Linked DNA regions of Homo sapiens. The protein of the gene in region 1 purifies or fractionates together with the protein of each later gene. This does not show direct contact. Each region holds a gene or a part of one and is shown on either strand. Other genes may lie near its edges.

The links. Proteins that work in one complex are often made in the same cells at the same time.
Region 2: the proteins of OR5H1 (region 1) and RBFOX3 purify together in Homo sapiens (affinity purification with mass spectrometry; one large-scale study listed by BioGRID and IntAct). This does not show direct contact.
Region 3: the proteins of OR5H1 (region 1) and TBC1D24 purify together in Homo sapiens (affinity purification with mass spectrometry; one large-scale study listed by BioGRID and IntAct). This does not show direct contact.

What each region holds. Positions count from the first base shown.
Region 1 is NC_000003.12:98,129,442-98,133,520, reverse strand, and holds the start of OR5H1 (olfactory receptor 5H1), read right to left. Parts: upstream 2,801-4,079; 5' UTR 2,671-2,800; intron 842-2,670; 5' UTR 824-841; coding exon 1-823. UniProt on the Homo sapiens protein: Odorant receptor.
Region 2 is NC_000017.11:79,608,252-79,612,218, forward strand, and holds the start of RBFOX3 (RNA binding protein fox-1 homolog 3), read right to left. Parts: upstream 2,801-3,967; 5' UTR 2,575-2,800; intron 911-2,574; exon of another isoform or gene 820-910; intron 363-819; exon of another isoform or gene 267-362; intron 1-266. UniProt on the Homo sapiens protein: Pre-mRNA alternative splicing regulator. Regulates alternative splicing of RBFOX2 to enhance the production of mRNA species that are targeted for nonsense-mediated decay (NMD).
Region 3 is NC_000016.10:2,492,127-2,495,626, reverse strand, and holds part of TBC1D24 (TBC1 domain family member 24), read right to left. Parts: intron 1-3,500. UniProt on the Homo sapiens protein: May act as a GTPase-activating protein for Rab family protein(s). Involved in neuronal projections development, probably through a negative modulation of ARF6 function. Involved in the regulation of synaptic vesicle trafficking.

The sequences.
Region 1 (4,079 bases):
GCTCCACCATATCTTGATCATCTGCTTGCGGAGATGCAGGGCCCACATAAATGAAGAGAAGGGGTCCATAGTATAAAGAGACAGAGAAGAGATGGGCTCCACAGGTGGAAAAGGCTTTCCTTACACCTTTATCAGATTTCTTTTTTAAGATTGCGAAGAGAACAAATGTATAAGATACAAGAATAGTCACAATGCTGAATACCTGAATTGAACCTGAGAAAATAAAAACCATTAGAAAATTAATAGAAGAATCAGTACAAGAAATCTTAGACAATGGGATAGTGTCACAGTAAATGTGATGTACTATGTTGGAGTTACAGAAGGTTAGTCTGAATAAAAATCCTTCATGGATTAAAGCATGAAGAATACCACCTACATATGACAAGATTAATAGCCGGATGCACAGTCCATTGGTCATAATGGCTGGATAAAGTAAAGGTTTGCATATGGCTACATAGCGATCATATGCCATCGTTGCCAAGAGAAAACATTCCGTGGTTACACTGATTGCAAACGAAAAAAACTGTATCTTGCATTCAGAGAGAGATATCATCTTACTCTTAGCTAAGAAGTTATTCAGCATCTTTGGGGTCACTGTGGATGATATCCAAGCATCCACAAAAGCTAAATTCCCAAGGAGTAAGTACATTGGGATATGAAGGTGAGGGTCTTTCCAGATGACAGCAATCAGACCAAGATTCCCCATGATGGTGATGAGATATATTACCAAGAATGCCAGGAACAGGGGTATTTTCCACTGTGGTTGATATAAAAATCCTGTGAGAACAAACTCTGTCAGCAATGTTGCATTTTCCTCTTCCATGTCCTCACAGCATGCCCTCTAAAATAAAATGCAACAAATGAAAGGGAACATTTGCAATGGCATTATCAGTTGAAATTGGGGAAGAGGTGCTGAAGGAAAACCTAAAATGATCAGAACCCTCTCAATTTTTTGATCAGTCCTATAGCTGATGAATCTCTATTTGTTGCAATAAAGACATGAAAAAATGATATATTTTGGTTTGAAACTGTGCAGTAATTAGCAGATTTAGGTAAAACAAGAGGCATTCTCTGTATGCACAACATTTATATGGACACTATTGAGTGCAGTAGAAAAATTGTTTGACTGGCATATGATACAATGTCAACAGGAAAGATTTTTGTACGGTCTGAATTAAAAATAAATAAAATAAATGCCATGTGAAGTATCTTAAACTTTATTCTTCATACAATAAGCATGTGCCAAAAATTTTAAGATGGGAAATTACATCCTAATTTTTTTTAATTTAGTTTTTGATAGTGTAGAAAATATGCTGCAAGAAGAAGAAACTGTACTCAGGGATATTAATTAGAAACTTGTTAGTAAGGCCCAGGCAATCCCAAATCACATTACACATAAAAATTATCTGAGTGAGTTTTTATGAAAAATATGTTATGAGGTTTTAATGTAGAAGTTATTTAAGGAATTAGGTCTGGGGATCTGCATTTTGAAAATACCCTCCGGGGGATTCAAATGCATGTTAAATGTATGGTCTTGGTGTGATATGACATTGAAAGAGACAGTAAGACAAAGAAATAGATTCTAAAGAATTCAGAATGTAGAGTCTCTAGTATTCTGTGACATATTTTGTAGGCAGTAAGTGGTCAGTGAAGGAGAGAGGAGTCCCTTGGTGACTGGGAAGATGGATATTAAACATTGAGAACTCAGGTGTGCTGACAAGTTTTTGGAGTGAGCATCATCTGGACAACTAGATGTGTTCCAATCAGTAATATGAGCCTATTAGAGCTCAATAGAAATGATTGCTTGGATTCATTGTGGTAGTCAAAGGCAGTCAAAGGCATAGTTAAAGATGATGCATCCTTGGAGTGTAAAACAGAACCAAAAGGAATGGCAAGAAAATCAACTTGAGCAAGTTATATTAAGGAGGTAACAAGGTGGACATATGTCCTGTAAATGGCCAAGGTGTGATCTCCTTTTTTGCCATCGAAATCATAGTGGCTGTCAGAGGTAACATACTGCCAAAAGAACTAGAAACTCATTTTCCCATTTTTCTTACATCTAAAGTGAAGGGACATGATCTAGGATGGCCAATTAAATACACTGATCCTACATTTGGAATATGGAGAGAGGGACAAAAGATATTGGTTTCAAGGCAGCCAAAGCCAAAATACCAGGACTTTACTTAATGCAACCTTTATTCACATCAACAAAATTTACAGTGTGAGCTCTCAAATTATTGTCAAACATGAGTGTAAGGATACAGGAGTTAATATGTAAGTGACTCACCTTAAAAGTTTTAATTGGAGAATGTGGTTGATTCAGAGGAATGGGTATTTATATCAGAATAATTCCAAGAAATAATTCTAAGAATCATTATTATCTGAATCTTTAAACCAAGTTTTAGTTGTTTAATGCCCTAATTTATATAAACTCATCATAATAAGATTAACAAAATAGCAAAATATTAAAGGAAAAATTCAGTCTTATAACTCTTTATCCATATTAGAGTCATAAAACTAAAATATAAAAATAGTCCAGTCAGAGTCATCCAGTTTCTGACTTTCTATTATGACAACTTGTTACCCAATCTAAAATTTTAATGAATTAAATGGCATTATCAACATTTCTATAAATTATAATAAAAATTAGAGAAGTTATTTCTTCCTTACCCATATATTGAAGGAAATTGTGGATATCCTTTAAACACGTTGTGCTTTCTAAACAAAAATACATACAGTAGCACAGCAATGTCAATAATACAGGTAGCCATTCATGGCATATTCATTCTTTTTGAAGGTTTCTTTTTCCAAGCATAGAAAAATGTTGTTTATTAAATATGCTTTGAGCACATAAATGACCCAGTTGTGCCACTAGGGTCTTTTGCCAGAAGAGAAAGGAATGAAAAACTGAAATTCTCATAACAGTGTCAGAGGACTCCCTGTAGGACAAATTGAAGCTGTTCTAATGGGCATTGTGCATTTGCACAAGTGTAAGTTCAGGTTGTCCCCAAGGGCATTACAAACTTCTGGAATCACAAACATCATTTCATGGTAGACACTTCTAGTTTTAACAATTGAAATAACACTTTATGTTACTATTTACCACCATGGATGACACTTCTGGCATATTTGTTCAAACTTTAGTTTATATGTAAAATTTACTGTTAGTGCTTTAATTAGTATAGTCTTATTTGAAGTAACCAAAACATAATTTTAATAAAGCCAAAGTTCTAGATCCTCTTTGGGAGCAACCTCAAATACAATTGTCCTTCCCATGCAAATTTCAGACATGCAAATTTTAGACATATATTTAGATCCCCCATTATAAGCTAAAATCCAATGGGAAATTTTACTAGGAAGAAGACAAAAAGCAAATGTAAAACAAAGCCAGGGAGTGGCTTGCAGTGGGAGGTGTCCTAGGTCTGTGCTTCTCAAACTATAATGCCTATGATTTTCCTAGTGATGTTGTCAAAACGCAGATTCTGTTTCAGTAATTCTGGGGTGGGTCTCTCAAGAGCCTTTATTTTTAACAAAGCAGTGCCTGTGGACATTTGCATCCAACAGGTCTTCATGGTGGGAAGACCTAGATTATCAGAAAGCCTTGATCATTGAAGAAACAACAAATAATAAATGTGGCTGGTATGCAAAGAGAGAATCAGGAAGGACCAAGTGTGTTCAGGGAGGCCAGCATGGGTGGGACCTTGTCGGGTAGTTCAAAGATATGTTCTTTACCCCAACTTACAGGAAAACCAATGAACTATTATTGAACGATTTTGAAAATGGTGATAGCATGTTCAGAATTTTCTTTAGAGCATTAACAGAATAACATGTTAAGGAGCATCCATTCAAAAAAGAAAACCTAATTTACCTACTTGTAATATTTATATTTCATATTTAAATAGTGACATGTACCTTTCTTGACAGCAAAAGTATTTATTAAAGAAATAAAATTGCCTGCACTTGGATTATGGATGGTGATATGGTTTGGATTTGCTGCTCTACCCAAATTTCATGTTGAATTCCAATCCCCAATGTTGGAGAGGGTCCAGGTGAGTGGTGATTGGATCATAGGGGTGGAC
Region 2 (3,967 bases), on another chromosome or scaffold:
CTCCCAGCCCCGCTGTGGCTCCCAACCGAGGTCACTGGGTGCGGAGCATTTGCCGCAAAGGCCCATCCGAGTAAGGGGCGGAGCCTAGGGACTTCCCTGGACTCCTGGCTCCTCCTGGCACCCAGAGGCGACCCGAGGTCCCCGGGGTGGGCACGGGTCTCTCTAGGCCCCAGGCCCCTGAGGAAGGTGGATCAAAGCAATCACCCAGGTTCCCTTTTTTCTTTGGGGGGAGGAGGGTGGATAGCTGCTAGAAATGGACAACTCACCCCAGAAAACCCCGGCCGTGCAAGCGCAAACAGCCCAGCACCAGTGGCAACCCCTGCCGCACGCACGCAGCCACCTCGCCAGGCCCAGGCTGTCTCGGCTTGGGTGCGTCCCTTCAACCGTGCTTCTTGCTCCTTAACCCCTTCAGTGGTCCCCACGTCACCCGCTCTGTCTCCCTCCTGGGGACAGCCTTGCCCTCCCAGAAGCTGTCAGCCAGGAAATGAAGGGTTAAGCGTTGCTTCCAGGAGTGTGCGGTGAGCGGTGAGCGAGGCGCCCACGCAGGAAGGCCTCCAGTCCTGGGGGAGGGGCGGGGGGGCCAGCCTCGGTCCTCGGCCAAAGGGAGCTCCTCGCCCGCAGGAGGCGGAGAAGGAAGGCGCGCCGGGATGGTTCTAAGAAGGCTCCCCTCCTCCGCCCCCGCCATGCCGCCCCCACGCCCCCACCCCGCCGGCGCTCAGTGACCTGGGGCGCCCCTGCAAGAGGCCCATACCCGGCTTTCATCAGGCAGCGCCTTCTCGACAACTTTTCTCCCTCTCTCCCCTCACAATTTTTGCTCACCTGGAGGGTCGGTTTTTAATTAGTGTAATATCCCCGTGAACAACGCAGCCTAATTAAGACATCCGTCCCGAATCCGCGATGCACACTTAATGAGCAGGTTCTGCCGCAATGTTTATACTTTTTTTTTCCATTATGTTTTGCAGACCAGTAAAACCGAAGCCGGCTTCCGGCTGAAAGACCTCATTACGGGCGACCCCACTCCATTAGCCTCCTACCTGCTCCACGCTAAGTGCCCGGGGCGCCCGGGTGCATGCCCAAGGCGTCCCCGAGTCCAACCTGCGTTTGGAGCAGGAAATTAGCAACCTGCGCGCCCGAGAAGCGACTTCACCACCAGCTGGGGCAGGAAGGGGGACTTAAACCCAGGGATGGATCCCTTGGGTCTCTGTCCTTAGCCTCCACCGTGGGGTGTCTCGCGCGTCGGGACTAGCGGCTCCGCGGGACTCCTTTTTAAAAGTGATCATTAAATAAATCAGGTACCTCGCCAAAGCTGGAACGGAAAGGGGAGGGGGAGGCAGCTCTGTTGTCCAGGAGTTTCTCCCCACCTCGCTGGGCCCCCGCCCCCACCAGTGGACTCCGGGAACATCCCACCCCCACCCTACGTGATACCAGGGATCCCAGGGCCGCTTGGGGACCCGACAGGTTCCCAATGCCCCTCCACGCGGGGCGCCGCGTCTCGGTCCCCGCACCGACACTGCAGGGCTGCGCGCCAGGGGAGGCTCCGCGTCCCGGGGAGGGAGGCTGCGACCCCCAGCACCAAAATGACCACTGGCCTCGCGCCACCCCGAGACGCCACAGAAGACCACCTTCCCGAGCGTGCGAGCCCAACACGCCCCGGGCGAGCCCCACCACCGCCCGGGGCCACCAGGGCAGAAAGTTTGGGCCAGGGGCGTGCCCGGCTTTCCCAGCCCGGCCGCGCTGCTCGAGGCCCTGGGGGTGGCCGAGGCTTCAGAGAGGCAGCCTCTGCTCCCGTTCCAGCCTTCCTATCGTGCTTGGGGACTCGGCCCGGAGCGCCCCCAGCCCGCCCCCTGTAGGGCCCTGCGCGCCGCTCGCCCCTCGCTGCTCGGCCCCCGCGCACACCGCGGTGCTGCGGGCCCCGCTCCTATTTGGGGAGCTGTGGCAGCCCCTTCCTCCCCACAACTCCTTTGGGTCATCAACCTCTCAGCGACCCTCCTTTCAGAGGACCCCGGCAGGGCTCTCTCCGGGCCTGGGTGCCGCGACAGACGCACGTTGCACCACCGCCGGGTCGCCAGCCTCTCTCCCACCCGCGCGGGCTCCGGCTGCCTGCTCGGACGCGCCCCGCGGGGCCGGGATCTCCGCGCGCCTCTGCCTCCCCCCGCCGGGGAGTTCCCCGCGCCGGGCATTGTGCCGCCGCCGCCGCCGCCACAGCCACCACCACCGCCACCGCCACCGCCACTGCCACCGCCACGCAGCGCGCGGGACTCCCTGGCGTCTCCATGGAGCCCGACCCCCGGGCCTTCCCATTCACAAAATCGCCCCTCTGGCCCACGGCCGGACAGAGCGTCCAGACCCCAGCCCCGGAGGGACCCAGGGACCCCGACCCCGCGCAGGGACCCCTGACCCCGAGGGCGCCACCCCACCCCACGCGCCCTCGGGTCAGCCCCGGCCGCGCTCAGCAGCCCGCCTCCCACTGCGGGGTCCCATGCGCCCCTCCGCGGCCATGTCCCCCTCCCCCAGCTCAGCCCGATGGGAATGACCGCCGCAGAGCGAGGCGGGCGACGAGGCCAGGCTACTCACGGGCTCAGCGCTCCCCGCGGCAGGTGACTGGGGGCCGGCGGCCATGCCCCGGCTGCATCCCGGCCGCCGAGCGGGCAGCGGCGTCCTGGGGCCGCACAGGCACCGGCGAGCCAGCGGCAAGGGGCGCGCGAGGCCGGGCTCGGGCGGCAGCTGTGGCAGCTGCTTCTCCTCCGACCACGCGAGCTGCTGGGGCCCGGCTGGGGCCGCTGTCCGAGGAGGTTCTGCTGGCTTCGGAGCAGCCCCGCGCTCGCTCTTCCCTCGCCTCCTCTCTCTCTCTCTCTCCTCCCTCCTCTCTCCGCCCTCCTTCTCTCTCTCTCTCTCTCTCTCTCTCTCTCTCTCTCTCTCTCTCCGCCCTCCTTCTCTCTCTCTCTCTCTCTCTCTCTCTCTCGTTCCTCTGGCTCGTTCGGCTGGAGCGAGGCGGCAGCAGGAGCACGCGGCGGCGGCGCGGGCGGCGGTGGCAGCTCGAGCGGAGCGCGCAGCGCGCGGCATGGGAGGGGGCTCTGGCTGTCGCGCGGCCGGGGAGGGCGGCGGAGCGGGGAGAGCCATGACCGGGTGGGCTTCGGCGGTCAGCACCCTGCAGCCTTCAGCGCCAACTCCTCGGGGCAGGGGCACAGAAGAGGTGGGGTACACACGGAAGATCCCAGAACCCAGTGCTGCCCTGGTCCCTTCAAGGGCAGCCCCAAGCCCGCTGCCCCTCCCCACCTCCAAGCTATCTTGGGGGCGGATCAACCCAGGTGACCCTTAACAGGACCCCTGCCCTTGTGCCTCGCTGTCCCTGGGGGCCATTTTTCTTTGCCAGGCCCAGGGATCCCCAGCAATGGGACGTGGTCACCAAGCATCAGGGACGAATGCCACCCCACCCCGCATGCCATGCCATGCCTTTGAGTTGCCCACATACCCCAAACCCCCTCACTAGGCCCAGGTGCCCTGACTTCCTGGAGGACCACTGGAAAGGAAGGGATCGGGCCCACTCCGTGCTGTTAGTCCAGATTGGCCAACCCAACCCATTTAAACATTTCCACCTGTGCCTGGCTGGAGAGGAAGGACTGTGGGAGGTCAGCTTAGGATTTCCCTAAAATCAAAAGATCAGGTAGCTCCTGTCCCCAGTCCCAGCCTCCCCCAGCATCTAGAGTAAGGGGCCTGGTGTGAGTTCTGGGAGGGTCTCTATCCTTGGTGCAGAGGGAGCAGGAGAGCAGAGGCTGAGGACACAGTGGAGTGGGGACCCTCTGGAAAGGCAGGAGAGATCTATTGCTGGGGTCAGCCCACCACTGGCACACAACACCAGAAGTGGGCAAGAAGGTCTGGACGGTCCCAAACAGGTTTAGGCAGGAGGCTGAGTAATCATTTCCAAAACAAAAGACATTCTGGTGCAGCAACCAGGCTGGAGAAACGA
Region 3 (3,500 bases), on another chromosome or scaffold:
TTTGTATTTTTACTAGAGACAGGGTTTCACCATGTTGGTCAGGCTGGTCTCAAACTCCTGACCTTGTGATGTGCCTGCCTTGGCCTCCCAAAGTGTGGGATTACAGACGAGAGCCACCGCCCTGGCCTAATTTTTTATTTTTTTGTAGAGACAGGGTCTCGCTATGCTCTCCAGGCTGGTCTTGAACTCCTGGGCTCAAGCAATCCTCCTGTCTTGGCCTCCCAAAATGTTGGGATTACAGGCATGAGCCACTGTGCCCGGCCTTGTTTTGTTTTGTTTGAGACAAGGTCTTGTGCTGACATCCAGGCTAGAGTGCAATGGCACCATCTCGGCACACTGCAACTTCTGCCTCCTGGGCTCAGGTGATCCTCCCACCTCAGCTATAGCTGAGACTACAGTTAGGCGCCACCACGCCCAGCTAATTTTTTCTCTTTTTAGTAGAGACGAGATTTTGCCATGTTACCCAGACTGGTCTTAAACTCCTGATCTCAAGCAATCCACCCACCACAGCCTCCCAAAGTGCTGGGATTACAAGTGTGAGCCAGTGCTCCTGGCCTGTTTTTTTGTTTATTATTATTATTATTATTTATTTTGTGTGTGTGTGTGTGTGTGTGTGTGTGTGTGATGGGGTCTTGTTCTGTCACCCAGGTTGGCCTTGAACCGCAGGCCTCAAGTGATCTTCCCACCATGCTGGAATTACGAGTGAGAGTCACGTTGCGCAGCCACATTATTTGCCTTAATCTTTGTGTAAGTATTAGAAGGGCTTCCACTTAAGATAAGTGACTTTTGAGAAGCCGTTACAAACTTTGGAGTATACCTTCTTTTCACAGAACTTATGAAGTTACTGGAATACATCACACAGATTCTGAGTAATGAGAGGCTAGAGATAGAGTTCCCAGAAGGGCTTCAAGAGCTTGGCCCTTGGCTGGGCACAGTGGCTCATATCTATAATCTCAGCTACTCAGGAGGCCAAGGTGGGAGGACTAGTTGAGGCCAGGAGTTCAAGACCAGCCTGGGCAACATGGTGAGACCCCATCTCTACCAAAAAAAGAGGCTGACCCTGCTGAAAACACCTTTCCACTCGAGCATGGTCCACTCCAGGCTCCTAAACACCACCCTGCACCCTGGGGGCCTTCTGAAAAGGAACCCCCAGTTGAGAAGATCACTTTGAGCAAAGAGATGCTTCGTTCTAGTTCTCCCTTTTTTTTTTTTTTTGAGACAGAGTCTTGCACTGTCGCACGGGCTGGAGTGCAGTGGCGTAATCTCGGCTCACTGCAACTTCCGCCTCCCGGGCTCAAGTGATTCTCCTGCCTCAGCCTCCTGAGTAGCTGGGACTACAGGCACCCGCCACCACACCCAGCCAGTTTTTGTATTTTTAGTAGAGATGGGGTTTCACCATGTTGGCCAGGCTGGTCTCGAACTCCTGATCTCGTGATCCACCCACCTCGGCCTCCCAAAGTGTTGGGATTACAGGCGTGAGCCACCACGCCCAGCCCGTTCCCAGTTCTCTTTAACCAGCTGTGTGTGCTAAGAAAGTCACAGCCTATGCTATCCCACCCTGTCGGAATTCTGAAGCCGGCTCTTAACTTTCTAAAACCACCAGCTTGAAAGCTATGCTTCAGGCAGGTGCTCCAGGGAGGAATCTCTGGTGAGGAGCAGGCATTTTCCAGAGGGAGAGCTGGGACCTAAATGGAAGGTGCTGCAGCTTTAAAACTGCACATTTCTGGATCCGAATGGGCCAGAAGTCAAGTGGGGGTGGTTGGTGTTTCTCCAAGAACAGCAACCCCTGGGCTCAGGCAAACATAAAAGGAGTGGGTAAGACGTGCCCTGTGGGATTCTGGACAACAGGTGGCTGCCCTGGCCCAAGGATACCGTCCTGCGCACAGAAGTGCAAGGTTTGCTTACGCACATCAGACTAACCTTTCCACCTGGGATGGTAGAAGTTCCCAGTGTGCCCCAGGGGTCTGCTTCAGCAGGTTTTGGTTGAGTGACCAGACCACTCCGGTTTCTCTTGCAGCTAGAACATTCACCTACCTATTATAAGGCAAATACTGCTTTAAAACAGTTCTTGAAAAGTAAAAATCATAGTGTAAAACGTACGTCTGCGAGACACTGTCTTGGGAAAACACCTCGACACGTGTTTTTGTGTGTGTGGTAAAATACACATAGCATAAAATTTACCATGTTAGGCCGGACGCGGTGGCTCACGCCTGTAATCCCAGCACTTTGGGAGGCCGAGGCGGGTGGATCACGAGGTCAGGAGATCGAGACCATCCTGGCTAACACAGTGAAACCCTGTCTCTACTAAAAATACAAAAAAACTAGCCGGGCGTGGTTGCGGGAGCCTGTAGTACCAGCTACTCGGGAGGCTGAGGCAGGAGAATGACGTGAACCTGGGAGGCGGAGATTGCAGTGAGCCGAGATTGTGCCACTGCACTCCAGCCCAGGCGACAGAGCAAGACTCTGTCTCAAACAAACAAACAAACAAACAAAAAATTTACCATTTTAGCCATTTTTTATTTATTTATTTTTTTGAGACAGAGTGCCGCACTGTCGTCCAGGCTGGAGTGCAGTGGCGTAATCTCAGCTCACTGCAACCTCCGCCTCCCTGGGTTCAAGCGATTCCCCTGCCTCAGCCTCCCAAGTAGCTGGGATTACAGGCATGTGCCACCACGCCCGGCTAATTTTGTATTTTTAGTAGAGACAGGGATTGTCCATGTTGGTCAGGCTGGTCTCGAACTCCCGACCTCAGGTGATCCGCCCGCCTCAGCCTCCCAAAGTGCTGAGATTAGAAGCGTGAGCCACCGAAGTTGATTTTAATGTATCCCACTGGAAAAACCTTGCCCACAGCAGGACTAGGCCTCAGAAGAAAAGAAACCCTTAAGACCATTGATTGGTTTGCTTCGTCCTGGGAGGGAAGGCAGTGAGGGCTCCCCCTTTCCCTGGTCCTGAAGGTCAGGCCGACAGGTCCACTCACATGCGCACAGCCACGCCTGGGTCACACTGCACAATCTTACACGTGTCGGTCGGTTATCCACAGCTTACATCCCTCCTTCCCTGCTATGGGCCCACTAGCCTCTGGAGGAACTCCAGGCCCATCCTGTTTGGGTGAAAGAACTGGCTCCTTCTTAAGGCAATAAACATGTTTCTAAACAGAACAGGAGCTGGGCAGAGCAGCACCAGCCTCCACTCGGCTGGCCCCAGATTCAGGTTGAATATTAAACTGGAAACAGTAAAAGCTGTGGGTGCACCTTGCGAAGTTCCCTTAGGGAGATGCAGATCCCAAGTTGTGTTTACTGCCGCGAATGGTCCGGCGACGTGCTGGACTCACAGGGACCCCCGAGCCAAGGATGTGTGCAAAAGACCCGAGGGAGCCCTTGGATTCTTTCTTGTTCCCCAAACCCTCACTCAAAAAGAGCGCACGACATTTCTGGGGCTGTGCACACAAGGCAACAACCCACTTAAGGCATCTATAAAAACCAGGTCCAGGCCAGCAAAGG